Regions from separate parts of the Homo sapiens genome. Here region 2 is linked to region 1. Evidence: fine-mapped expression QTL. A gene starts in region 1. The other region holds a variant in brackets. All regions are shown on one strand. Distances are between the middles of the regions.

Region 1 (2,910 bases):
ATTACACTCAGATGCACGGAGAGAACTAGTCATATTTTCACTGTCTTACGGGGTAACCTGTCAAGAACTGTCAAATACAATTTTAGGGAGTCGGGATACTAATGAATCAAACACACACACACACACAAACAGCATCTCCAAGACTCCAGCACCCCCCTTTCCCAATTACTTACTGGTCAAGCCCAAAGGAAAAATAATTTTTTAAAAGGCTAGGCTGAGATGGAATGGGAAAAAGGATCACTGTGAGCACAGATGATGTCCCGGGACAAAAGCTCTGCCCAACACTGCCCAAGCTGACAGGCTCACTCACACTACCTTTCTCCTTATGCGTCTCTCAATACGCAGTCTCTGAACACTTAAAAAAATGTGAATTTTGCTCTGACCACATAAAGAAATCAGCACGATTGACACCAGCTCTAAAATAAGCAATTAATATATTCTAATCTAATGCTTAAGAAGAATGGAGAGCAGGCAACAGCTCCTCCAACTGGTTGGAGCAGATATCACTGGAAGCCCCCCAAGTATTAAGATTTTTAAACAACTTCAAGTTCTGGTGGGCACAGCCAAATACACTGCAGAAACTTTGGGACCAGCAGCCACGACACAACAGGTGAGAGAGGCAGCAGACATCATTGCACGATGGAGTGCACAACATTCAATGACAAACCCGAAAAGGTCTGGGGATATGGGAAAATACCATGCACACGGCCATCTCAGAGCCCCTGTCTTTCCAGTGGCAAAAGGTTCTGTTCCTTCGGAGGGGCGTGCCACTCCCCCTCTCCCTCACCCAGGGGACCACCACCCCAGGCACAGGAAGAACCGCGGCCCCTCCGCGGGCACATCTCAGCTGGGGAAGAAAACACAATGTCGCTCCTTATTTCTGCGTACAAAAGGACTTTGCGCCCTCCTCCTCGAACTGCCGCCCCGGCCACCTCCTAACTTGCAAGAAGGTGGGCAACGCGCCATATTCCAGCGTCCCCCAGTCTACCTGGGTAACAAGCCCACGCCACCCCGGCAGGAGGGAAGCTTCGGAGGTCGCCCAAAGAGCCAGCCTCCTCTCCCGCAGGAGACAGCGGCTCCCGCGCCCCAGCCCGGCCCCACCGCGCCGCCCGCCCGCCCGCCCGCGTACGAGAGCCGGGAAGGGCCGAGGGGGCGAGCCGAGAGCCGCGGCTCCGGTCCCGCGCAGCCCGCCCACCTCCCGCTCCCGGGCCCGGCGCACTCTCCCGCGCCTCCCGCTCCCGAGCTGCGGGAAGGCCGGGCCCCGGGTTCCACGGCGGGGAGAAGGCCGCGGCCCCGAGAGCCCCAGGCGGCGGAGGAGGCCGGAACCCTGGGGCTCTCGGGAGGGCAGCGCCTCCCTCCCGAGCCCGCCAGGACGCCTGGGGCCTAGTGCGGCCTGCGCATCCTCGGGGTGGCGGTTTGGCTGGGCCGGGCCGGGGCCCCCCGCCCGAGGCGGGCCGAATCCGGCGGGGGCCCAGGCCCAGAGCCGGGGGCGGCAGGGTGCCGGCTGCGGGGCGGGCCGGCCGGCCGGCGGGCGGGCGGCGTGTTGCGGCTGCGCCGGGGCTGAAATAGCTGGAGATTGCGCGGTAGGGCACTCACCTCAGAGCGGCTGCGCTACCGTGGGCCTGCGCCGTGGAGACTGCGACCGCGCCGGCTCCTCGCAGCCTCCTGCCACCAGCGGCAATGGCGAGCGCTGCCGCTTCTGCCGCCGCCGCCGCCGCCGAGGAGGGGGAGGGGAGGGAGAGGGCACGCACGCGACGCACGGCCCGGCTTCCCCGCCCGGCCGCCGCCATGATGAGGAGGTCGGCGCGGCTGTGCTGCGGGCAGGCAGCGGAGAGGGCTCGCGGCGAGGGCTCCAGCTTACCCCGCCGCCGCGTCGCGTGCACGGAGCGCTTCAGAGGTTTGGAGGGGGCCGGAACCTCAAAAGCAACTGGATGAGCACAACGCGGACGCCCCGGAGAAGCGGCGCAAGCGGGCCCAAAATGGTTGCTGATCAGACGAGTGGCATCTCTCGCCCCCCTACCGCGGGAATTGGGACCTCCAGACTGTGCCTGGGGGATCGGCAAGTGGTTCCCCTCTGGTTTTTTCGGCGCTGCCTTCCCGGTGGTATCCTCACTCTCTCTCTTTGAAATGACCTCTGCTTTCCTATCTCTAACTCTTCCCAGATATTTGAAAGCAAGTTTTTGTACAAAGCAACATATGAATGTATTCAGCCATTCGATCGTTCGGCGAACATTTCTAGGTGTCTCGTGCTGTGCCAGATATTGTTCTGAGTGCGCTGAAGATGCACCTGTTAGCAAGACAAAGTCCTGGCTCCCACGGAGCTTATTCGAAGCAATAGGGGCCCCCAAGCAGGTGCCTGAGAAGTAGGGAGGGGTGGACAGTGGGAAAACAACCTAACGGTGGAGACACACGAGGGGTCTTTTTTTACTTTTAGAAACGGGGGTGGGTGGTCACCCTATGTTGCCTAGGCTGGTCTCGAACTCCTGGGCCCAAGCGATCCTCCCGACTCAGCCTCCCAAAGTGCTGGTATTACAGGACACCATGCCCGGCAGAGGGGTCGTTTTTGTTGTTTTTTTAGTGTCGTCAGGAGACTCCCTCCATCAGAATTACTCAGGCTGATTGTTTTGAGTCCTGGGACCCAGTTGGTATCCAGAATCTTGGCTTGTTTGCCTAGGAACCTGCATTTTCACATCCCCATCTCCACACCCCTGGTGATTCTTATGCATATAATAATGTGAAAAGCATTGCATTGAAGAATTGCTAAAGGGTGTCAGAAAACGGATTAACAAAATCAGGAAGCTTTAATTTTCAAGATTCTATTAACCTCAAAATTCAACATATCCAAAAATTGAATGTCTTTTTCTCCAGTGTTTTCTAGGAGAGTGCCAACACTAGCCACCCAAGTGCTCA
Region 2 (2,910 bases), 35 kb before region 1:
CTTCTATTTCATCTTTTATTATATGAATGTATTACTTTGACTTTTAACAAAATGAGCTTTAAAAACAAATAGCTATGATATAGTCTTCCAAACTGATCCTTTTGAAAATTAAAATTAAATGACATGTTAGAGCAAACTGTCACTAGATAAATAAAGCTCCCTTCTTACGTTAAGAACTGAGAACAGCACAGTTCAAGTTTAGAAGTGGCCTTGCCTTGAGGAAGACAAACTCCTAATTTGCGGCATCTAAAACTAACAAAATTGTATGACTAATCAAATATTTTTCATACCAATAGGTTAACTTTGTAAATATTCCTTAATACTAATAACACGATAATCCAGTTAACAATGATGCTTTTATATAATGCTTAAGAAAAATAAGCTTTGGGCTGGGCGTGGTGGCTCACGCCTGTAATCCCAGCACTTTGGGAGGCCAAGGCTGGGGGATCGCGAGGTCAGAAGTTTGAGACTAGCCTGACCAACATGGTGAAACCCTATCTCTACTAAAAATACAAAAATTAGCCAGGGGTGGTGGCTTTAATTCCAGCTATTCTGGAGGCTGAGACAGGAGAATCACTTAAACCTGGGAGTCGGAGGTTGCAGTGAGCAAAGATCGCACCACTGCACTCCAGCCTGGGCAACACAGCGAGACTCTGTCTCAAAAAAAAAAAAAAAAGCAAGAAAAGAAAAAAAAGCTTTACCACACAACTTCATAATGACTTAGGGATGAGTGGATGATTTTATGAAAATACTGTAAGCGCCAGGCATGGTGGCTCATGCCCGTAATCCCGAGAGGCCAGAGGCGGGCAGATCGCGAGGTCTGGAGTCAGCCGGGCCAACATGGTAAAACCCCGTCTCTACTAAAGATACAAAAAATTAGCCGGACATGGTGGCACATGACTGTAATCCCAGCTACTCTGGAGACTGAGGCAGGAGAATTGCTTGAACCCGGGAGGCGGAGGTTGCAGTGAGCCAAGATCGCGCCACTGCATTCTCCAGCCTGGGCGACAGGGTGCGACTCCATCTCGAAGAAAAAAAGAAAAGAAAATACTGTAAGCTCACTGAAGTCAGGGCTCGGGTCCATAAAGTCTCTATGAATAGATCTATCATAATGTGCTCTTTGATAAATGATTGTGGGTAATCAGCTGCACATTTTAATAACTAAAGCTACACCCAGGCAGTTACAGTTTCTGTAACTCTCCTACAAGGTTATGCTTGCTGTTTATCTCTCTCTCTCCGTCTCACTTCCAAGCCCTGTCTTCTATTCTTGTCAGAGTTGCACTATTCCTCGCTCTGGGGCTGAGCCTGCCAACCATGTTTTCCAGACTTTACTGCCAGTATCCTGTTAGGTTTTGCCTAGGGAGACTGGAAGGGGAGAGAAGAAGGGATTTCTTTGCTGTTTTCATTGTTATAATATCAGCATTGCTCCAGCAAGAGGAGTGTTGCACCTCCCAACTCCAGCTGTGCCTCTTCTCTCCTGGTGG[T/C]TGAGTACCAGCTGAATGGCATTCCACTAGGAGATCAGATTACCAGCTGCAGGAGGACCTCTCTGAGCTTCCAGGTTCTTCTCTTCTGTTCCCCCAAACCTAGGGGTGGTAGTGCTTCCTATCTGGATTACCCCAGTGTCTTTTGTGCTCTTTCATCTTGTAACACCTGTGTACCCAGTTCCCAGAATTAAATTATCTGAAATGCCACACATGGTTTTCTAGGCCCCGATTAATACTTAAAGAAGAAAATACATACTTGCATTCAAAATTACTCATACAGTGCTGGTAAGCAGCAATCCGGGATTCTCATACCCTCAATAAAGAAGTGATGTAAAAAATGAAGCCCATTTTTACAAGACTACAATTAGAGTTTCTGTTTTCAGACACTGATGAATCTCAAATTTAATGAATCATTAAAAAGATGCTAAGCTATAGAGTATAAAATGTCTCACAGGCCTGGCGCGGTGGCTCACGCCTGTAATCCTAACACCTTGGGAGGCAGGTGGATCAGCTGAGGTCAGAAGTTCAAGACCAGCCTGGCCAACATGATGAAACCCTGTCTCTACTAAAAATACAAAAATCAGCCGGGTGTGGTGGTACACGCCTGTAGTCCCAGCTGCTCGGGAGGCTGAGGCAGGAGAATCGCTTGAACCCGGGAGGCGGAGGCTGCAGTGAGTTGAGATGATGCCACTGCACTCCAGCCTGGGCAACAAAGTGAAACTGTATCTCAGAATACATAAATACATAAAAATAAAATGCTTCACACAGACAGAAATGGGACACTTAGAAGTGAGAAGGGAGCATAGACAGGAAAGTAGGTGATATCAACACAAACTTATGTTTGTGAGTCTATCTGACCTACTCTTTAAGTCTAACATTCCTGCAAACCTCAAAATCAACATCATAGTACTATACTGTCTCTTCATAGAAATAACACTGACAAACAGAAAATAATTTGTCATATTACTCGATGAATAGATCAGGTTTTTGGAAACCAAAGAAAATGTGGTAGCAATGGTACCTTTGACCTTTATCTACCATCCTAACTCCCTAGCGGACTGCGTAGACCTACTGAAAATCAGTGGTGGGTAATGGCTATCATTTCCAGCATGGGAAAGAGCGATTTAGAGTTACCATTCTTTTTTCTTATTATACAACTGGGCTCAGCATGTACAAGTGTCTGGAGAGTCTCCTCTCCATTCTACCTCATGCCTACTTAAACACATCCTCACTTCTCCGGCGGGGTGGTACAAACTCTGGAACCAGAATACTGTATTCCATTTCTTGCTCTGCCACTTACTAGCAACTTGGAGAAGTTTCATTTGACTTTTTCTGTCTTAGTTGTAACATCTGTCAAATGAAGGAAAATAACAGAATCTACTTCATAGAATTACTGGGGACAAAATGAATTACTATTTGAAAAAGG

Direction of the effects. Alleles are on the strand shown, and positions count from the first base shown. SD is a standard deviation of normalised expression in the study named.
For the expression in prefrontal cortex of the gene that starts at base 1,701 in region 1, allele C in region 2 goes with a lower level than allele T (small effect, 0.39 SD a copy in GTEx).

Evidence for each region. PIP is the estimated chance that this variant, and not a neighbour inherited with it, causes the effect.
Region 2: its variant is fine-mapped to the expression of NRF1 in prefrontal cortex (GTEx, PIP above 0.99).

The regions. Positions count from the first base shown.
Region 1 is chr7:129,610,511-129,613,420 of GRCh38, reverse strand. It overlaps NRF1 (nuclear respiratory factor 1), which reads right to left and starts at 1,701. Exons shown (of 11, transcript NM_005011.5): 1 at 1,597-1,701. RefSeq lists enhancers at 414-553, 2,234-2,283 and a silencer at 854-1,843.
Region 2 is chr7:129,645,171-129,648,080 of GRCh38, reverse strand. All of the region lies in intron 1 of NRF1 (nuclear respiratory factor 1), which reads right to left. Among named protein-coding and RNA genes, the nearest start is that of NRF1, 35 kb to the right of the region's middle. The variant T/C (reference allele first, on the strand shown) is at 1,485.